Linked DNA regions of Homo sapiens: region 2 is linked to region 1. Evidence: fine-mapped expression QTL. Tissue or cell type: adrenal gland. Region 1 holds a variant in brackets; the other region holds the start of a gene. All regions are shown on one strand. Distances are between the middles of the regions.

Evidence for each region. PIP is the estimated chance that this variant, and not a neighbour inherited with it, causes the effect.
Region 2: it holds the start of STT3B, and the variant in region 1 is fine-mapped to the expression of STT3B in adrenal gland (GTEx, PIP 0.92).

Annotation. Positions count from the first base shown.
Region 1 is chr3:31,423,655-31,435,511 of GRCh38, forward strand. No RefSeq gene overlaps it. Among named protein-coding and RNA genes, the nearest start is that of STT3B, 100 kb to the right of the region's middle. The variant AT/A (reference allele first, on the strand shown) is at 7,194.
Region 2 is chr3:31,525,477-31,537,088 of GRCh38, forward strand. STT3B (STT3 oligosaccharyltransferase complex catalytic subunit B) reads left to right here and starts at 7,449. Exons shown (of 16, transcript NM_178862.3): 1 at 7,449-7,836. The coding sequence starts at 7,523. RefSeq lists enhancers at 1,375-1,875, 7,132-7,271, 8,122-8,181, 9,621-10,122, 10,123-10,622 and silencers at 6,772-7,031, 7,342-7,571, 7,602-7,731, 7,812-7,961.

The DNA.
Region 1 (11,857 bases):
TCTCAGCTAAGCTCACTCATGCATCTGCAGTCCAGCTGTGGATTGGCTAGTTGGGTCTGCTGATCTTAGCTTGGTTCACTCTCACATGCCCAGGGGTCATATGACTATCAGTTGTTCTACAAAGGCCTTGGCTGCTCCATATGTCTCATTTTTGCGCAGGCTAGCCTGGCCATGTTCTCAGCGCAGTCACAGAGGAATAGCAGAGAAAGCAGAAATGCACAAGGACTTTCACAAGCCTCTGCTTACAAAAAGTCCGCTAATATAATGTCCTACAGACCAGTGAAAATCACATGAAGCCCTTATTTAAGTGATGGGAAAATAGACACCCTCTCTTTAGTGAGAGAAACTGCAAAGTCTTAAGGCAAGGGGCATGGATTCAGAGAGGGTTTAAGAGTTGGTACTTTAAACGCAAACAATCTGCCATATCCACCAATATCATCTGCCATTGATGTAGATCAGATCCCCAGCACTGCCAGACTGGCCCACAAGCTTGGGACAAGAGAAAGCCCTCAAGCAGAGAGTTGCAGATACACGGAGTAGCACAATACTGACAATTACTGAAATGGTGATGCTGAGGGGATATGGGGGGCAGTTGGCAGTCAATCTACAGTTTGGTGGATAGTCCATGATAGAAATGACCCATCACATTCTCACTCAGGAATTAGTACCAAGATCTAGACAGTTGTGATAGAAAAAAAGAGACACAGCTGGGCATGGTGGCTTATGCCTGTAATCCCAGTATACTGGGAGGTGGAGGCAGGAGGAATGTTTGAGCCCAGGAGTTTGAGACCAGCTTGGGCAATATAGTGAGACCCTGTCTCTACAAAAAAATTTAAATATTAGTCAGGCATGGTGGTATGCTCCTATGGTCCCAGCTACTAGGGAGGCTGAGGTGAGATGATCACTTGAGCCTGGGAGGTCAAGGCTGCAATGAGCCATGATCATGCCACTGCACTCCAGCCTGGGTGACAGAGCAAGACCCTGAAGAAAAAAAAAAGAAAGAAAGAAAGAAAAGAAGAAAGAGAGAAAGAGGAAAGAAAGAAAGAAGAAAGAAGGAAAGAAAGAAAGAAAGAAAGAAAGAAAGAAAAGAAAGAAGAAAGAAAGAAAGAAAAGAAAGAAAGAAAGAAAGAAAGAAAGAAAGAAAGAAAGAAAGAAAGAAAGAAAGAAAGAAAGAAAGAAAGAAAGAGAAAGAAAGAGGAAGGAAGGAGAGGGAGGGAGGGAAGGAGGAAGAGAGAGAGAGAGAAAGAGAGAAAGAGAAAGGGAGGGAGGAAGGGAGGGAGGAGGGGGAAGGGAAGGAAGAGAGACACTAATTAGCAGGACACACAGAGGAAAATAGAGCTTCTAAGATTAGGTCTAGTTGCAAGCTGTAATATATAGCCATGTGTACTTTGTAATGAATGCCCTTTTCTTGAAAATACCTAAGTGAATCTCTGTGTATACCGACTGCCCAAAATGGGCCAAATTCTCTGTCTCCCCCTGTATCTCCCTGATCAATACCCCTTTGCAATGTGACTTTGTAGGTCCTCTAATCAAATATCTATTTTCATACCCTTTGAATTTGGGCTGGTCTTGTCACTTCTTTTGACAATAAAATGCAATAGAAGTGATAGTGAACCAGTTCCAAGTCTGGGTCTTAACAGGTGCATGATTTTGTCCTATTTTTGGAATCCTTGCCAGTGCCACAAAAACAAATGTTGAAGAATGAGAGAAACCATGTGAAAGAGAACAGTCATTCCAGCCATCCAAGTCATCCAAGCCCCTTCAACAACAGCTGACCTTCAAGCACATAAGAGAGCCCACTTAAGATCAGCAGACCTGCCTACCCAACCTAGAGCTGATTACAAACATATGAAGCAGCTCATCCCAGGTCAGAAGAACTTCCTAGCCAATACATAGGATTTTTGTTCTTTGGTGTGTTCATATGGTAGATTATATTGGTTCATTTTCAAATACTGAGCCATCCTTGCATTCTCAGGATAAATCCCACTTTGTTGTATTGCATTATTCTTTTTATATATTCTTGGATTCAATTTGCTGATATTTTGTTGAAGATTTTTGTATCAATGTCACTGGTCTATCTTCTTTTCTTGTACTATCTTTGGTTTTTGTATCAAAGTAATGTTAGAGTTGTATCATGAGTTTGGAAGTATTCCCTCCTTGTTTATTTTATATAAGAGATTTTGTAGAAATGGTGCTTTGGTCTTCATTAAGTGTTTGGCAGAATTCACTAGTAAAGCTCTCTGGGTCTAAAGTTTTGGGATTTGGTTTTGTTATTGACTTTTGTTTTCTGTGGGATTTTTTTTTGAAGATTCCTAAATATGAATTCAATCTCTTTAAAAGATATAGGACTATTTTTTCTTAAATAACTTTTGCTAATTTTTTTTCTTTCAAGGAATTGGTCCATATTATCTATGTTGTTGAATTTATGTGTATAGAGTTATTTATAGATTTTTCTTATTACCATTTTAAAGTCTGCAGCGTCTGTAGTAATATTCCTATTTCATTTCTGATGTTGATTATTTGTGTCTTTTATTTTTTCCCTGGAGCGTATGGATAGATGTATTGTATTAGCCTGTTCTCACACTGCTATTAAAGACATACCCAAGACTGGATAATTTAAACAAGAAAAAGGGTTTAATGGACTTACAGTTATACATGGCTTGGGAGGTCTTACAATCATGGTAGAAGGCAAGGAGGAGCAAGTCACATGTTATGTGGATGGCGGCAGGAAAAGAGAGAGCTCGTGCAGGGGAACTCTTTTTAAAACCATCTGATCTTGTGAGATTTATTCACTATCCTGAGAACAGCACAGGAAAGACCTGCCGCCATGATTCAATTACCTCTCACCGGTTCTCTCCCACAACACATGGGAATTCGAGATGAGATTTGGGTGGGGACAAAACGAAACCATATCAGGTATTATGTATGTATTATTGATGTTTTCAAATAATTGCCTCTTTGTTTCATTGACTTTTCCCTATTTTTCTGTTTTCTATTTTATTGATTTATGCTTTTATATTTATTATGTCTTTCCTTTAGCTTTCTTTTGAGCTTATTTTGCTCTTCTTTTACTAGTTGCTTAAGGTGGAAGCTTACAGATTTGAAACTTTTCTTCTTTTTTAATATGTGCACTTAATGCCAAAAATTTGAATCTAAACACTGCTTTAGCTGCATCCCACATATTTTAATACGATGTGTTTTTATTTATTTCAAAATATTTTTTAATTTGCCTTAAGATTTCCTCTTTGATTCATAAATTATCTGGAATTATGTGTTTAATTTCTAAATACTGAGGGATTTTCCATATATATATATATATATATATATATATATATATATATATATGTATATATATATATGTATTTTTTGTTTGTTTGTTTGTTTTTTGAGATGGATTTTCACTCTTATCACCCAGGCTGGAGTGCAATGGCACAATCTTGGCTTACTGCAACCTCCGACTCCCTGGTTCAAGCAATTCTCCTGCCTCAACCTCCCAAGTAGCTGGGATTACAGGCATGTGCCACCACACCTGGCTAATTTTTTTGTACTTTTAGTAGAGATAGGGTTTCACCACGTCGGTCATGCTGGTCTCGAATTCCTGACCTCAGGTGATCCACCCTCCTCAGCCTCGCAAAGTGCTGGGATTACAGGCATGAGCCACCACATCCGGCCCAGATATCTTTATTGATTTCTAGTTTGTTTTCATTAAGGTCAGAGAACATACTTTGAGTTATTTCAATTCTTTTACATTTATTCAAGATTGTTTTATTATTGAAGATATGGTTTATCATGATGAATATTCATATGGACCTAAAAATAATGTGCATTTTGCTATTGGTAAGTAAAGTGTTTTTTAATGTCAATTAGATCAAGCTGGTTGATGGTGTTACTTAGATCTTCTATACCCTTGCTGATTGTCTACTTTTTTGATTAGCTGGTAAACTAGAAGCATTGAAGTTACCAACAGTAATTGGATTTGTCTATTTCTCTTTTCAGTTCTATTAGTACTTGCTGTATGTATTTGAAGTCTTCAACTATGGTAGTTGGATTTGTCTATTTCTTCTTGCAATCTTTTAGTTTTTGTCTAATTTATTTTAACAGTGTGTTTTTTGGTGCATACACAGTAAGGATTGTTATGTCTTCCTACAGAATTTGCCCCTTTATTATTACGTAATGCCCTCCTTTGTCCATAATAATTTTCCTTGCTCTGAAGTCTGCTGTGTCTGAAGTTAATATAACTACTCTAGCTTTCTTTTCATTAGTGTTAGCATGGCATAACTTTCTCCATCTCTTTATTTAAACCCTATCTGTCTTAATATTTAATGGGAGTTTCTTGTAAGACAATACATAGTTGGGTCTTATTTTGTGTCCACTTTAACAGTTTCTGTCTTTTAATTAGTGTATTTAGACCATTTACATTTAAAGTGATTTTGGTATATTTGGATGAATATCTACCATATTTGTAACTGTTTTCTATGTGTAGCCTTTGTGTCTCCTCTTTTTTTGGTATTTCCTTCTTTTTCTGCCTTCTCTGGTTTTAATTGAGCATTTTATACCATTCTATTTTCTCTCCTCTCTTAGCATTCAATTATCCTTCTTTTTAAAAATTTTTACTGGTTGCCTAGAGTTTGCAATATACATTTACAACTAATCTAAGTCCACTTTCAAACAACACTGTACCACTTCATAGCTAGTACAGTTATCTTGTAATACAATATGCCCAATCCCTCCCTTCCATCCCTTATGAAATTGCTGCCCTTTGTGTCACTATCCATAAGGTATATCATCCAATATATTATTATTTTTAACAAACTGTTAACTATTGTTAGAGCAATTAAGGATAAGAAAAGATTTTATTTTACCCTCATAATTTCTTCTCTAACACTCTTCCTTTCTTTATGTAGATCTGAGTTTCTGACCTATATTATTTCCTTCACTCTAAAGAAATTATTTTAACATTTCTTACAAGGCATGTCTTGGGACAAATTCCTTCACTTTTATCTAAAATGTCTTATTTCATTTTCACTTTTAAGGGATAATTTTTCTAGACACATAATTCTAAGTGGATAGCTTTTTTCTTTTGACACTTTAAATCTTGTACTTTACATTCTTCTTGCTTGCATCATTTCTGAAGAGAAGTCTAGTGTAATTCTTATCCTCATTATTTATAGGTAAGGTGGTTTTCTTCCCCTGGCTTCTTTGAAGATTTGTGTCTTTGATTTTCTGTAGTTTGAATATGATGTGCTTTGGTGTCAGGATTTTTGTTTTGTTTTTGTTTTACTATGTATCCTACTTGATGTTCTCTAACCTTCCTGGATCTGTGGTTTGTTGGATGTCATTAATTTTGGAAAATTCTCAGACATTATTATTCCAAGTATTTCTTCTGTTCCTTTCACTTTTTTGCCTCTGGTATTCCCACTACATGTATATTATACCTTTTGTAATTGTCCTAGATTTCTTGGATATTCTGTTCCAGTTTTTCATTCTTATTTCTCTTTGCCTTTCAGTTCACCCCGTTTCTATGAACACATCTTTAAGCCCACTGATTCTGTCCTCGGCCATGTCCAATTTACTGATGAGTCCCTTAAAGGCATTCCTCATTTCTGTTATCATGTTTTTTATTTCTAGTATTTCATTTTGATGCTTTTTTAGAGTTTACATCTTTCTGCTACATTTTTTTCTTCTAGCACCCTTAGTATATTAATCATAGTTACTTTAAATTCCTCATGTGATAATTCCAAAATTTCTGCCACATCTGAATCTGGTTCTGACATTTCCTTTGTCTTCTCAGAATACGTTTTTTGCTAGAAGCAGTTTCTTGACTTCTAAGCAACATTATCTTCCTTATGTTGCTTTTCCAGTCATTCCGGGACTTTTGCTATGTTAAATCCCTCTCTGTTTAAACTACCTGGAAAGGTTTCAATTTTCCTATTCGATGATGACTGGGACAATAGATGAAGTAGGGTCCTCACATGTGGTCTCTGGGGATGCCATGCATAAGCAGCTAAAAGAGTTCTTATTAATACAATTGGAGAAAAATATATTTTTTAAGTTGCGCCTTGGGGAGCAGCAAAGAGATCAAGTTTATCACTGCAGTACAAATGATAAAAGAAAACAGAAGCTTAAATCCATAAATTTGCTTGTGCTCTTGTCCTGCTCTTAAGTATGCTATTTAGCCTGAACATGATATACACAGCTATTAAAATTAAATATGAACCCTGTGACATCTAGTATGATGAGGAAACTGTGACCACCACCACTGGCATCAGGCCATAATCATACAGTCTGTGGCACTGCCACATCCATGCCAGGAATTCTAACTCACAGCCTTAAAATTTTTTAATTTAAAAAAATTATTAAAAATTAAAGGGAAAAACTACAGTTGATGTCCTTCAATAGGTGAATGGATAAATAATAACTGTAGTCCATCTGTACAATGAAATATTATTCAGCATAAAAAAATAGTTATCAAGCCACAAAAAGGTACAAATGAGGCCAGGCACCATGGCTCACACCCACAATCCCAGCACTGTGGGAGGTCCAGGTAGGTGAATCACCTGAGCTCAGGAGTTCGAGACCAGCCTGGCCAACATGGCGAAACCCCACCTCTACTAAAAATACAAAAATTAGCTGGGCATAGTGTTGGGGACCTGTAATCCCAGCTATTCGGGAGGTTGAGGCAGGAGAATCACTTGAACCCGGGAGGTGGAGGTTGCAGTGAGCCAAGATCGCACCACTGCACTCCAGCCTGGATGAAAAGAGTGAAACTCTGTCTGAAAAAATAAATACATAAATATATAAATTTCTATATTTGGAAATAAAACTATTGTTACACTTAAAAGAATATTGTACAAAAGATGCTCAGTTTAGAGATAGAGCCATTAGTTAATCCATATAACAAGAGGAGAATCATATTTTCTCATAAATTTCATCCTTTCATGCATTCCCATGGGAGCCAAAAAGTTAAGACATTATTATATCAGAAATAAAAACCATAGGTTGAATTACCCCACAAGTAGGACTGTTCCTAAGGCAGGTTTTTAAATCTTCTGTTTTGTAGAAATTAATCCTTCCACAAACATAACAGAAACTGCAAGCTTAACTTCATATTTATATAAAGAGAAGGAGAGAAAGGAACACAGACCAATATACACATACCATTTTAGAAAGCGGTGTCTTGCAAACACAATCAC[AT/A]TTTGCTTCTTCATGCTAAATCAAGATTGCAGGGTCATTCAGAAGTGAAATTAAATGAGGGAATGATAACAATATGCTTGAGTAGTTTTATTTGTGCCAGTCTGGAAAAGTATATTACACCCCAAAGAAAGAAATAATAGTACAGCTGAATGACAGCATATTTATTGCTTATTGCAAGAAAAAAAATGAATTATTTCAAAGCCATAAAACTATATTTGATAAATATGTTTAAGACAATAAACATAAACAAATCTTTGTTTATAATATGACCTTACTCAAACTATAGTTCATCCATGCTTCTGTGATGGTTAGTTAAAGCTAGACTCTGATTGAATAAGCAAAAGAGATTTTTCAAAGGATGGTAAGTAGTTCACAAAATCCTCTGGAAATCTCGAGAAACAGGCTTGAGATGAGCTCCCAGGAACAATTCCTAAACCCACACTGCAGAACTAGTCTGATGACAAAAATGTTATCACTACCACTGCCACCAAGCAGTATTTATGAGTTCGTACCACTACCACATCCATGCCAGAAATTCTACCTCACAGCCTTAACCTCCCAAGAGAGAGATTTATTTTAAGGACTTGGCTCACATGACTGCAAAGGCTTAGCAAGTACAAAATCTGATAGGGTAGACCAGCTGGGAGGAATTGCAGTAAGTCCAAAGGCAGTCGCTTGAGACCCAGAGAACAGCCAATGTTGTGGCTGGAATCCAAAGGCCATCTGCTGGCAAAATTCCGCCTTGCTTGGGGAGAGGCTAGACTTTTGTTCTATTTAGGCCTTCAACTGATTGGATGAGGCCCACCCACACAATGAAGGGCAATCTGATTTGCTCAAAGTCCCAATTTAAATATTAATCACATTCAAAAACACCTTTATAAAAACATCCAGAATCTAGATAGTTTGACCAAATATCTAGATGCCATGGCCCAGCCAAGTCAACACATACAATTAACCATCATGTTATTCCAGCTCTATTCTGTCACAAGCTTTTGGGTAAAGGTTTGGCAAAGATCTGATGAACAAAGTGAATCAAGCAGGAAAAAGAGGACACACTCAGAAAGATACTTTCAGAAAGTTTATTAGGGGGGCTGTTTGCAATGGTGTGGGAAAGGATGGTAAAGCACCCAAAAACTAGCGACAGGGGGAAAACATTACTGCACCTAGATCTGAAGGGCCAAGGGAAAGGAGCTATTCTGGAACCTGGTGACAGCTTCCCTTCCCAAGCTGGGCTCTTAGGTATAGAAATGTAACAACAGTAGGAACACTGCTCAGCATAGATGGAGCTGGGGGTTAATGTCCCCACTGCACTCCCCTCCCACTCTCCAACTGCCTGCCATTGCTGCCATTGGCCAAACCCAACCAGAAGCAAGAGACAAGGAAACCTTGGTGATGTAGTCCATCCAAGTCAGCCTCCTGGAGGACAGGAAAGGTAGAGAATGGTGGAGAGTGGATCTGGAGGGACAAACAGAAGAAACCCATATCACCCAAAGCCTAGCTCAGAGGCCTGAGCACCAGCTGTTGGAGAGACCAGGAAGGTGAGCTCTGCCTTCTACCTTCAGGAGGTGGATTTTAAATGATGGAAAATTCCAAGGTAGAAAAAAGGAAGGTGTTCCAGTGATGCTGGGTGGCTACAAGCAGGACAACTGGACAACTGTCCTCTTTAAACTCAGTTGGGTACTGTTCCCAATATCATGGACATCTTCAACATCAGTTGGGTACTGCTCCCAAAATCATGGACATCTTCAAGCAGTAGCCACTGCTGTGGTACACATCTCTCAAGGGTACCTCCTCACATGCAGGCCTTTCTCTTCTCTTCTAGAATTTTCTTTCTCCTAGGACCACAAACTCTTTGCATTTTCATCCAGGCCAATATCTTTTCTCTTGGAGGAGATTAGACATTTCCTAATATTATCTGAGAGAAAGAAACAAGAAACAAATGAACACACTTGCACAAAATTAAAACTTTTCATTCCAGCAAGGACACTCTGAATATATAATTTAGTGCCCAAATCTCCTATTTAATCTTAGAAATACTCAAAGTCAAAGGACCTTGGCCTGACTCCAGGAGAGATTCAGAAAGGACACACAGCAGCCTCCTGCTGTCCCTGTGGCAGCTCAGGTGATGAACCACCAATCTGCAGTTTGGGGCAATGGAAACTGGCATCAGCCTATGTGGTGAATTCTCAGGGTTTTATCTTGCCTTGGCATTCATTTTGAATACAAGTTTAACTTTCTCATACCAGAAGCAGGGCTCAGTCATCCTGGACACAGTTTCCAGTTCTACACCACATGCAAATGGCTCAAGCCAGTGGCCAGAGATAAGAACTTAGAGGTATCTCTCCCACCTGGCAGACTGGGCTCCCTGTTTTCCTGCCACTTCTTTCAAACGGATGATTCAGACGTTTGCCTGCAAACTTAAAGTGATCCACATTATTCTCTTATACATGCTCTAGTTGCCACATGCTCACTCTCGTGTTCTTGCTCTCTCGCTGTCTCTCTCTCTCTCTCTCTCTATCTGCCTGAGCCTTCTTTACTGCCTTAGGTGATCCGGGGACAAAAGACTGCCCTCCTGACTCATTATGTCCTCCTTGCTCGGAAAGTAAAAATCTTTGAACTTGTTTCCTCTTTGGTGATGTATTGAATTTGCACATTTCATCTGAAGAATCAGGGGCTTCCCCAAACCAGGTTTTCCTTGGGACACTGGAAAGAATGTGAGGTCAGGCTCCCACGGCCAGAGTGATGGTCAGGCAGGCATAAAGTGGACATGGGTCAGACAAGAGCCACAAGGATGTCTGCCAGTATAAACAAACTTCCCATTTGCAAGACTCCTGGTCACAAGTTGAACCACTAGGCTTAAGGCCATCTGCCATGTAAAGAAGTATAGTATGCTAAGAGAGGCAAACCATAAACACCCACAGGCAGCTTCCCCTGGGCAGAGTCACTAGCCACTCTGGTACTGGAACCCCAATTTAGCTGCAGACTTTCAAAACAGCTCCTCCTCCAGGTGTCTCCTAAAAACCACATACACACCATGCAAATTTAATATTAAAGTCTAGAGCTTTTACCTCATAAACCATCCCTGTAAAAATTGACCAAGGTCAGAAGTCACAAATGGTAGCCCATGGATCAAATCTGCCCTGAAAAGTATTTCACTGGGCTGCATTCTGTTAACCTACATCAATTTTAATATCATTTTTTTCATTGCCAACATTTAAACATTGGGAAATTCAAAACCAAAATCCAGATTACAAGATTCTCCTGAAAATTAGGATGCTCTGGGAAGACTGGACTCATATCCCACAGCACAACACAGCAGCACTCAACAGGAGCTGAGAAATCCCTGACTTCTTTTGATAGGATGTGTGCTGTTCAGGTCACCACTTTTGTGCCCTAGAAGCCAAGGTTAACCATGAGTAACTGATTGTCATTATATTCCTGCTATTGTTTTTCTTATAGTTATGTTAGAGAGATAAGTATTTTTCACACACATCTCTATCAAAATACAATGAAATTTAGACTAAGAGAACCATGTTTCAAGAGAAAGGAGAGGGTGTATATTTTTGTGCTGAAGTGATCCAGCCTGTCTCACTCATTTATGCTTTCTGCATAGGTCTGAGCCACATTTGGGGCTGTGATACCTGGAGTGACCCTTATCGACTTCTTTAGACCCACTTTTGCCTCTCAGTTCCTTACTTGACTTAACTTGCTTGTATAATTCTAAACACGAAAGTAATTTTTTAAATACAAAATGCCACCTATGGTCTTGTCTGATCCATAAGAATGGAGACACCTGATTTCTTCTTTATTCAGTTATTCAGTATTCATTCAACAAATAATTACTGAGCATTATGGGCAAAGCACTTTGCTAAGCACCACAGATACAGCAACAAGCAAGACCAGTGTGATCCTAGCCCTTGTGGAGCAACCAGTCTCTGCTTTTCTAGAAATGAACTGGAGTTTATTACGATGTAGGAGCCTCATTTTTCAGTGAGTGACTTCACAGCTTATTTCTAAGCCAGCACACTGGCCTGGAAAAGTGTTCTTGAATATGGTGATTTTATTTCTATGAGAAAAAATCGGACAAAGAGGTAGAAGGACAAAAATTATTTTCACTAACTGGGGCCCAAATATTTTCATTACTACATCAGTCAGGTTAAGCTGTTGTGCTGCAGTAACAAATGACCCCAAGTTTGGTCCATCACAGATCAGCTATAGTGCTTCTCCAGGTCAGCTTCACCCTGGGGATCAGACTGATGGAGCTGACTGTTTGTGACCTGGCTGGTTTGTAGCAGAAAGAAAGAGGTATGGTAAAAATCACACAAGAGCCCTTAGATCTTCTGTTTGCAAGTCTTGCACATCACTTTCACTTATATTCCTTTGGACAAAGCAAGTCACATGGCCATACCTGAGTTCAGCAGGGCAGGGATATATAACCCTCCAGCAGAAGAGATACCACAGGAAGGGCATTTCAGGGAAAGACAATGTTTTCAACAATAACACAATCTATCACAAATAGCCATACAATCAGCCACTGGATGATGAGGGTCATCTGGTCCCTAGAGATCAAAACAAAAACAGTTTTGGCATAAAAATCATATCTGCAACAAATTGATAGTCTCTAATGAAAAAGCCAAATAACATAGCAGAGGAAGAAAATGAA
Region 2 (11,612 bases), 100 kb after region 1:
TCAGGACTTTTGTTTGTGCTCTCAGGAAAACCAGGCATGCCTAAAGAAATGAAGCTGCAAACTTACAGCAATATAAAGTCAATATGGTCATGGGAGGTGGTGGTGCCAATATGACCTAAGAGAAAGTCTGCTAAAATAATTTCTGGGAAAATGTTTTTCTTAAAAAAGGAAGACATATGTGATTGGCATCTTCCTGTCTCCTAATCTTCTGCCTCAAATGCTGATGTGATGTCTGGGGCTGCAGCAGCTGTCTTACAATAGTGAGGCAATAATCAAGAGAATGAAAACCAATATGCTAAGTGAATTGAAAGTGTATTACTAGGTTCAATCAGGAAAACAGAGATACTCTAGGTACTTCAGGAATAAAAGGTTTAATCAAGAATTATTATTTACACTAATGTTGAAAGACCATAGGGAATAAAGATAAGAGAAGTTGTTGCCTGAAGGTCAAGGTCAAGGAAGGAGACTTTGAAAACTTTAGCCTGAAGGACTGAAGCAGGGAGCTCTCAGAAGTTCTCTAGGAAACTGCTCCAACTCTCAATAATCTCCAAAAAGCTCCCCAAAATTGTCTTAGTCAATGACAATTATGTAAGTTGTTCTCACACCAGCCAAAAAGATGTGTAAATCTTACATTTGCCCATTCTTCCTTTTCTATCTGAAATCCTCTCTGTCTTTTTTGTCGACTGAGCTCCCCTCACTGACAAAATATCATGGAGTCATACAAGAAAAGAATCTGGGAAAAGTACTTCTCAGCTTCTGCTATGCAATGCAAAGGACAGCATAAAAGGGGGTGAAAATGACATCCGAGAATCCAGCAAAGAGTATAAAGACAGAAAAAGTTGAAAGCTTTGTTGAGCAACTGACTTCATACCAGCAACCACCTTTCTCTGAATTTCACTTTATGAGAGAAAATAAACTTCTATTTGTTTAAGCCATTATCCTTTGGCCCTTTTTGAAATCAAATGTGTGCCTCACTGTTACAATGTCCTTCTATGAAAACCATGAGATAGTGGGCATAGAAATGTGAATTTTCAAAAGTACTAAAATAGAAAATTAATTTCCTATATATGATCTGGAATTTTAAGACTAGAGTGTTGTGTTGTTTCAATGGTAGCAAATAAAGATAAAATGTGACACTGCATCTCAGCTGTAGATTACTGGCTCATTTCCAAGTGTCCCCTGCTTGGCTTTGTTTTTCCTTTTCCTCTGCTTTTTTTTTTTTTTTTCTTTTTTTTTTTTTTTTGAGACGGCGTCTCGCTCTGTCGCCCAGGCTGGAGTCCATTGGCGCGATCTCGGCTCACTGCAAGCTCCGCCTCCCGGGTTCACGCCATTCTCCTGCCTCAGCCTCCCGAGCAGCTGGGACTACAGGCGCCGGCCACCGCGCCGGGCTAATTTTTTTGTATTTTTAGTAGAGACAGGGTTTCACCGTGGTCTCCTTCTCCTGACCTCGTGATCCGCCCGCCTCGGCCTCCCAAAGTGCTGGGATTACAGGCGTGAGCCACCGCCCCCGGCCTTCCTCTGCTTCTAATGCATCCTTCCCACACTCCAAATCTCACTTGTCAACATCCTACCTATTCATTTTTTTTTTTTCTTTCTGTCACCCAGGCTGGAGTGCAGTGCTGTGATCTCGGCTTACTGCAACCTCCGCCTCCCAGGTTCAAGCCATTCTCCTGCCTCAGCCTCCTGAGTAGCTGGGATTACAGGTGTGCACCACCATGCCCGGCTAATTTTTGTATTTTTAGTAGAGATGGGGGTTTCACCATATTGGCCAGGCTGGTCTCAAACTCCTGACCTTGTGATCTACCTGCCTTGGCCTCCCAAAGTGCTGGGATTACAGGCGTGAGCCACAGCTTCCGGCCAACATTCTACCTATTCTTTAAGGCCAATCACTTCATGAACATGTCCTTGATGACTGCCCAGACACAAGCTCTCACTCTTCACAGTGATCATGATAGAAAACATTCTCTGCCTCATACTGGATTTTGAGCTAGATTAGATCACAGCAATCCCCTTATCATCTACCGCAAAGGCCAACAAACTCTGGTCTGCAGGTGTGGTTGTGTTTACTGAAGAACAGCCATGCCTGTTCTCTTACATATTGTCCATTGCTACTTTCACACTACAACAACAGGGTTGAGTAGTAGCCTGAGACAGCATGGCCCACAAAGATGAAAATATTTACTGTGTTGCCTTTTACAAAAAAAGTTGCAGACCCCAGTTCTATTGGATTATAAATTGGAGGTTATTATTCATTATCAGCAGCTAGGTATTGCCTAACTTTGTAAGGTGTTTTATTTGAAGCAGGCATTTTCTGGCTTAAAGAAATAAAGAAGCACTCGTATGGGCTCGGGTCATGGAGAATTATTTTAAGGCTATCCAGGGGAGTAAGTCTCATAGCCCATCTGTCATGGTTCTGAATATAGCAGTAGTACCAGTGATATTGTTAATAACCAACATATATTGAATATTTCCTTTGCGCCAGGCACTGTCCTAAGTTATTTTCATGTATTGATTCATTTATTTCTTCTTATAACCCTAAGAGAAAGGTTCAGTGCTTATCTACGCTGTAAAGATGAGGATACCAAGGAGCAGAGATGGGAAGTAGCTTGCCAAAAGCCATGTGACTCAGAAGAACTAAAGTCAAGATTTGGTACCCAGCGTGTCTGCAGAGCCTGTGCTCTAAACCACCACACAGTACCACTTAGCAGCATACCTAGCTCAAATCTTTTTTCTCCCTCTCTGCTTCTCTCCTCTACTGGGGCTATGGACTACCAGGGAGGTTCTTTGACAGGTGCTTGTCAGAAAGGGACAATATAAGCATTGGGAATTCCCTCAGTTACCAGATATTTGCAAATGTCAATTATATTGTAGACCGTAGCAGCCCCCTAGTGTGGTGTGTCTAGTACAAGCGTACATGTCTTGTTGTTTGTGTTTCTCTAGGAAGAATGAAACCCACTCTCCGACCTGTGTCATTCCTGGGACACATCACAGGCACTTAAATCTTTTCTTGATCACTGTGGGAAAGGCTAGGGACTGCGGATCGTAATTTAGTTTTTTCTTGGTCTGATTTGGTCCTGTCTGTGCTTTTGAAACCAGACTTTTAGAAAGGGTGGTATACATTCTCTGCCTCCACATCCCTTGCCACTGATCCCTTCTCACCTGCTGCCATCTGGTTTCTGCCCCTATGACTCCACTAAAATTGACCTTGCTAAAGTAATTGGTGAACTCCTGGTTGCCAAAAGAAAGGTACACTTTTCAGCTGTGTCACACTCCATTTCTCTGTACCTTGTGCTGCTTCTGACTTCACTTTATTTCCCTTTCTTCACTGCTGGGACATTGCTCTATCTTGGGCTCCCTGTAGGCACATCTAAATTTGGAAAGTCCTTAGGGCTCTATCCTCAACCCTTGTCTCCTTGTCTATAGCCTTGATTCCAGCAAAATTTCACCCGTAGCCATGGAGTCCCAAGCCTTTATCCCAGAAAACCCTTCCTCCTGAACATCACATCTCTTTAAGTGTCTGTTATCCAGCTCCTCTTGGATGTCCTACAGGGACTTAAAACATTACATCTCCAAAGCTGATTTGATCATCTCCCCTCCAAATCTGCTGCTTGTCCTTTGCTCCCTATTTCTGAGACATCACTTTCCATCCAAATAACTAAACCAGAAACTCCAGATTTGTCCTAAACCCTACTTTTATTTTACCCCAATCACCAATTTCTGGACTCTACCCTCTTGATACCTCTCCTATCAGTCCTCTCCTCTCTGAGCCCTACTGTCCCAGTTTTGGTACCTAATTCTCTTGCCTAAATTTCTGTAAATGCTTCCTTATTGGTTTCTCTGCTTCCACTCTCACCCTTTCCAGTACATCTTTCATACTACTGTCAATTTTTTTCTTCCATCAACCAAGTCTGATCATGTTATTGTTGTTCAAAATGTTTCAATGAATCCCAGCTGCTTACAGAATAATAAACTCCTTTACCAGGCAGACAAGTCCTTGATAATCTGGTTCTTATCCCTCTTTCAGTCTCATCTCCCAATGCACCTTCATTAATATTAAACTTTGTGTATTAATTTGAAGGACTTCCTCGTTCCTTCTTGGAATCCCCCATCCCTCTTCCTGGTGTGTCTTGTGAACTTCTGCTCACCCCTCAAGTTTCAACTCAAATACTCCCTTCCCCTGGAAGCTGGGCCTCTGATGTCACACCACTCTGCTCATCATGTTGCACCCATAGTGTTTGATTGACTCCTGAGATATTTGAACTCAGGAGGATGTTACAAGCACCTAGCAGGATTAGAACCTCAAGTGCAAAGGGGCAAACACATTCAAGCTTCATCACAAACTGTAAACAATTTTTCCAAGTTGATAGGCTAGAAATTGTGAATTCACAATGCTGCAATTTATTTTTATGGGTTCTCTAGTGGTTCCACAATAGCATATTCCTCACAAAAGTAATCTCTGAATTCTCAGGTAGAGCTTTTACTGGTCTCCTCTCCAAAATGCTTTTCACATTGCAGCCTTGGTAATCTTTTCAAAACACACATCTGATCAACTCTCTCCCTCTATCTCAAATACACTACATGCTGCTTAAAACCCTTTATGGCTTCTCAATATTCTGAAGTTAACATGAAGCAAAAAACACCTCTTAAAAGGACCTACACTACCCGGCCATTCCTTTGACTCCTACTGCACCTTGTCCCACTGTCTGCATTGCAGCCACTTTTCTGGGTTACTCGTATGCCTCCCCTGCCCCACTGCAGTGCCTTTGCACGTGCTTCTCTATGTAACGCGTTCCATTCTCCTTCTCCTCGTCCGTTCATCATCACTTCCAGTGCTGCTTCCTCAGGGTAATGTTTCTCATCCTTCTGGTGTAGATCAAATTCCCCATGTGCCTGTCCTCCACAGTGTTTGTCACCCTGCATTTTGGTCCTGAACCATCTGATGATTTGGTTAATACCTCCCTTCCTAGGGCTGGCTGGTGAACTCTCTGAGAGTAGGAGCCCTGTCTTTCCTGTTCCTAGCTGAATCCCCATGCATCCCAGTTCACTCACAGTGGTCGGCATAAAGGAGTTCAATATATACTTGCTGAATGAATGAGTGAATAAATGAAGGTCAAAAATCAAGGGGTTTTCGTAGGGCTTTTCACCTTTACCACTACCCTGTATTTGCACGTTCCTTAACAATTTCCTAAAATGCTTTCAGATAAGCTTTTTTAATATTAACAACTGACTTTAAGAGCAGAAAGGGCAACCCATGCAGGTGACTTGTCCAATGCTACATGACTAGTAAGCAACAATTTGGGACTATTTCACTTTGTCACTTTTCAGATCAGGCCTATGGCCATTAAACAGCCAAAACAGGAAGCAAAAGAAGATAACGTAGAACTTACTAGGGAATAGATACACAAAGACAATAAAATAGAAATATCCAAACAAATTAAAATAAAAACACAAATTTTATTTTAGACTGATAAAACTTTGGTTCAGGGAACACAGACAAAAATCCTCTGCTGTCATTTCAGCATGTACCGTTTGGGCTATGAGGAAAAGCATGTCATCTTTCTCTGTATAACAGAGGCAGTTAATATTTTATCCTAATTCTCATTAAAATGTGTACGTTCAATAAATGTCGGCTATTAAACTGTTGGTGAGAAAGTCTATTTCTGGAAACCTTTTCATTATTTCCTTAATAAGACTATTTATGGTTTTTTTAAGGAAACAAGACAAAACGTAACCACTTAGCAGGTTAAAAGGGTAGCTGGAGTTGCCTTACTTTCAAGGAGCTACCTCAAAATAACTAGGGTTCATTTATCTAATATTTTAAGACTTCTATTAATATTGAAACACAATTTGTAGTTAAAGAGAAAAATTTAAATCACCTAAGAAAATAATTCAGGGCCTTTATAGTTTTACATTAATATGCCCTTTAATATCCAGATGTTACTTACCTAATAAAATGTACAATTAGCTGTGAATTGACATGAACAAGTATTTACTGAGCACCGATTACGCCGAAAGCTCCGTACTTTCTATGGGGTTTATATAAGAGCAATTCGAGTCTCCCCACTACCTCACTTAGTTTAAGCTCATTTTGCCCTGAGTTTATCTGGTAGCACTTTATTTTAGCGGACAAGGAGGGAAGTGGGGAAAGGAAAGGAATTATAAAAATACAAGGTAGACGTGCACAAGAACCTTCGTTCTATTATTATTTAGTAAAGTGAGAACTGGAAACAGCTTAACGTCCAGGGTAAGTTAGTTTCACTCACTCGACGGAATGTATGCAGCCGTTAATGTATTTCTGCATTTTCCCATATTTCCAGTGAACATACAGTACTTTCGCAATTCGGAGTACAAACGAAAAAGGGCGAGAGAAGGTCGCATTTTGCCTGCCGGAGCTAGGGGCGCGCTTGCCGGTTCCAACGAGTTTTCGGTGTCGGAAAACTTGTCTTTGCTCACATTCTCGGATTCCCGCGGCCGCAGAAGCCGGAGGCGGGACGTGAAGGGCAATGAGCAAGGTAGGCTGTGTCACTGCCGCCGCGGGCTCACTCGCAGCGCCAGCCGAGGAGCGCCACGGGCTGCTGAACCCCTCGGCCCGACCCACGCGCCGAGGGCTAGGATAATGCGCCTGCGCGGCCGTCACGTGGTGAGGGCTCCGCGCAAAGCGGGTTAAAAGTCACGACCGCGGAGAGCCCGCGAGCGTCCTGCTGGTCGGTGCGGCGCTTTCCGCGTCCTTTAAGACGAGTTTGACCGAGGCCGCTCCGCAGTTCCCGCCCCTCGGCCCAGCTCAGCTCCATGAACCTAGCGGAGCCGCCTAGTACCCTTTCTCGCCGACCGCACAGGCGCGCGAAACCGCGTCTTTCAACTGACAATGAAGCCGTAGCCGCGCAGCTCGGCCACTCCGGGCGAATCGGCGCGAGGCCGGGATGGTGGGGGGGAGGGGGAGACGGTTGGGTCAAGCTCCGCCCCAGCTCGCGCCCCTATTGGTGGGCGCAGCGGTTCTGGGCCCGCCCCCTAACGGACCTGTCGCTTTGTGACAGGCGGAGGGGCCAGTTCCTGTCGGGCCGGAGGCGGAGTCAGAGGTTGCTTGAGCTCCGCCCGGACTCCAGGGGGCTCCTCCCCCTGCTCCTTTCGGCTGGGCGGGCGGCGGGCTAGAGAGGGAATGTCATTGCTTCTCAGAGCCGTGGTGCCGCCTCCGTCTGCTGCTTCTTTCCTGGCGCCCTCGTCCCGTCGGCTTTCGCCGCCGCCGCCGCAGCTGCACTGGGGATACGGATGGCTAGTGGGGCGCCGGGGCCATCTGGGTTGAGAGAGCGGCGATTGCGGCCGCTGCTGAGGCGGAGACTCCCCGCCGCCGCTTCCTCCACCCCCAGTCCGCCGGCCTCGCGGCGCTGAGGGCGGGAGCGCGCAGAGCTCTTCCCTCCTCCTTTTTCTTCCTCCTCCTCCTCCTCCTCCGGGTCCCCGCCCAGCACCCCTCGCACCAGGCGGCGGCGGCGGAGGAGGAGAGCTAGACCCGCCGCCGGGGCACAACATGGCGGAGCCCTCGGCCCCGGAGAGCAAGCACAAGTCGTCCCTCAACTCGTCCCCGTGGAGTGGCCTCATGGCCCTGGGAAACAGCCGGCACGGCCACCACGGGCCCGGGGCCCAGTGCGCGCACAAGGCGGCGGGCGGCGCGGCGCCGCCGAAGCCGGCCCCGGCGGGGCTGTCCGGGGGGCTGTCGCAGCCGGCTGGGTGGCAGTCGCTTCTCTCCTTCACCATCCTCTTCCTGGCCTGGCTTGCCGGCTTCAGCTCGCGCCTCTTCGCCGTCATCCGCTTCGAAAGCATCATCCACGAGTTCGACCCGTGGTAAGTGCCTCGCCGCCCCTCCCCCGCCCGTGGCCCGCGGGGAACCGGGACCCGCTCCTCCGCCCGCCGCAGCTCTCCTCGACTTGGCCCCGCGCCGCCGCGGAGCCCCGCTCGCGTCCTGGCTGAGGCCGGCGCGGATCCCGGAGCTCCGGGCGCGCCCCCTGCCCGTGGGCGAAGTTTGCCCCGTGCAGCCTGAGGCGGGGCGTCGGGGTCCAGGAGCGAAACCTTGATTCTCGGCCGGGCTAGTGTGAAGACTGCCAGGAGTGTGGATGCAGCCGCCGGGAGTGTGGGTGCAGCCGCCGGGAGTGTGGGTGCAGTCCCTCGCAGCCCGCTTTGGTCGCTGAGTCCGGACCCGCCACGCCAGGAGGCGGCAGGTAGCTCCTCCGCGGACTGTCGGTCGATTCCCCGCCCTCCTCGCCCGCTGCTTTCGCGTTCTTTCATATTTGCGGGCGCGTTTTTGCTAGTTCAGACGGAATCGGCCAGGGGGGCTGCCCTGTTGCCGCTGGAGGTGGGTCCAGATGTGCCGGAACCCCGGCTGCTCACCCTTGCAGTTTTACGCTTTTACTGTTTCTTTTTATGCTCTCATGATACGAGAAGGGAAAAGGAGAGTGAATGGCGTGTTGGAGGGAAGGAAATAATACCCCTGAAAGTGATCTGAAAGCTAGCTACTCTTATTTATTTATCATTAGGTATTTTAAAGAGTGGCTTTTTTTCAGAGCTCTTAAGTGCACTCAGCACCTTACTGTTTCACTATCGTCTTGGGTTGCTTTTTAGAACAAGATCCTTACCCTGTTAGCCACTGTCACCCTTAGTGTGTTATGCACAGTATCTGAAAGCATTGCATTAGTTCCTTTATTGGTCTGCAGGAAGGTTTGTGGATAAGAGCAAACAGTACCACGGTGATGGGAGTCCTAGATTGTAATACCGAAGTTGCACATGGTGTAAGGGACTGACCTGAATGTTTTAGGAAATTACCCCACTCTTAACAACACTAGCTAACTTAGACACTACATTGGTCTGTGAATTATCTAGATGGAAAGATTGCTTTAACTTTTTTTTCGCAACTTGCCCAACCCGAGTTAGGATTTTTCCCCCTGAGTTAGGATTTTCCCCTCTGAGAGTATGCCTTTTAAACTAGTGTTATCTTATTGACCTGTCAACCTTGAGTTAATCTTACTTCCTCACAGTTAGACCTAATTAAATTTCAGGATATTTGTTTCATCATTTGAGATTCAAAGAGAGAGAGTCTTTTTTGAGAGTTACTAACTATATAGATAATAAGTGTTCGGGTGGAGGGGGGCAGTAACTTACCTGTATAGTAATATACCAGATTTAAGTTCTGCATTATGGAGAGAAAAATTGGTACTGCAACATCTATTGAACACCAGAGGGGCCCACTCATGGACAATTCAATTTAGATCAGTTAATTACTGTGACAGTCTTCCATGAAATGTTTTCATTCCATTTTAGAAGTTTTGATTTTGTTTTCTAACACTAGTTTTTTTAAAAAATAACCTTTTTGTTAACGTGCAATCACAGAAGAAAATATGTTAGTGTAGACTATTTATGAGCCTAAGAATACCTGTGAAGGCTTATTGACACAATATTATTAGGTGGTCTTGTTTTGAAATACTTAAGCAAGTTAGATAAAAATGAAATTGGAACCAGAAAATGAAAACTAGTATTTACTGGACAATATGAAAAGAGAAAGTTCTCTTTTCAGATTAAAATAGCAGAAATGCATGGTTGACCAAACATTTCAGGTAACAAAATTGTGAATATTTCCATAGTAACATTTTTACAAATGGAAGGCTAACGACTGTTTAATAGTAACTCTGGGGCTGAAATTAAAGATTGCAGAAAAATTCACTACTGAATGATGAGATTTTGGTCATTTTTCCTTAAGATTAGAAATCTGCATCAAGTCAGCCAAAGATCCCCACTAAAATTGAGTAATGCAATAATGAAAAGGCTCAACAAGTAAAGTGGCTAATATTTTTATTTTTTATTTTTTATTTTTATTATTTTTTTTTTTTTAGTGTAGCTAAGTATTAAAAGTTTTCTTTTTCCAGCTTCAGTAGTGTGGTTGGAGGGCATAATTCTTTTTCATGCACATGAAAATATGTTTTGGTCGGGCGCGGTGGCTCACGCCTGTAATCCCAGCACTTCGGAAAGCCGAGGCAGGTGGATCACCTGAGGTCAGGAGTTCGAGACCAGCCTGGCCAACATGGTGAAACCCCCTCTCTACTAAAAATACAAAAATTAGCCGGGAGTGGTGTCGGGCGCCTGTAATCCAGCTACTTGGGAGGCTGAGGCAGGAGAATCTCTCGAACCCGGGAGGCGAAGGTTGCAGTGAGCCGAGATCGCGCCACTGCACTCCAGCCTGGGCAACAAAGAGCGAAACTCCGACTCAAAAAAGAAAATATGTTTTGCTTCATTTTTTATATATATGAAAACGCATTTCTGACACATTATCATTTAGCTAAATTTGTACCATTTGAAAGTATACATCTCTGTTTTAAAGAGCTACTTAATTTAGGTATTCTGCATATAGTTTTAATGTTGACATTTCTTAATTAAATGTTTATATTCATAATGTTAGATAATCTTGCTTAGTAGTAAGGAGATTTGTATAATAATGGACTGTCTCCTGTGCCTTACCGTGAATGGAGATTTGTCAGTATGAATCTAATATAATGTCTAATTCAGGTGACTTAATGAGAGAATCAGGTTTCAGACAAAAAAAATACCTTGTTCTTGTTTTTTTTTCATGTCTTTTGAAGATCTCACGTAGTTAGGCATCTCATTCATTCTTATCTGATTCTTACAGTCATTCTTTTTGAAAAGGTTAAAAGGAGGGGGATGTGTAGATTGCCTGCCATTATTACTTTGGGCTTTTAAAGCTTTTCGGGGCTTTTAAATCTAGTTTTCTTCTATAGCTACTAATAGTCGCAACACTTTAACTGGTCTGTAGCTGAACACTCTAGTGTTTCTAGTTTGGGAGTTGCTCAGATCACCATCATATCATATAGCAATGGCACAGACCTTTAATAATATTTAAATGTTACTCTCAGGCTGTGCATCCACAAACCGATTTATTCTGGCCTGCTCATACCTTCCCTGACCTCTTTTTCCATATCTCTATCAATGGTTTCATTTCTGCAAGTCGTTTTAGTGAAGGGTTTACTTTCTCTGTGAGCTATTTCTTTAAATTTTACAGTAGTTCTTAAATTGTGTAAAAGACTCAAGTTAGCTGCTGAAAGTGACGTCACAGAGTTATACTTGTTTTTTAAATTTGTCACCCAAGTTATTTATCTTACCAGTTGTCATAAGGGGTGATGTGTGATTTATTTATTGAAGTACACTGCACTTTTTTAACATTTAGCAACATTTTTGGTAACAATTTGACTTCACTTTAGTAATTCCTCCCTTATCAGCTGAGTTGAACAGATAGGAGGAAGCAGTTTGAAAATATATTGTCTGTACTTGCCAAACGTTTGGTTAATCAGCCACTTTAACAGCACTTAACTATACCTTTTTATCTGGAACAAAATGTGTTTTCTACATATTTTTATTGTAAGAGATAATACTTTTACTTTATATTAGCCAGATACCTTCTCCATATCCATTATCTTGTTCAATTGTGGTAGCCTTTCCCATAGAAGCAATGAAGTTCCCTATGTGAGAGCTCTTTTTTCCCTGCCTTAGCAGGTTATAAAGTGGGTTCTCCCTAGAGAGAATTCTCTGAGCCTTAGGTTTTGGCTGTAGTTAGCAAA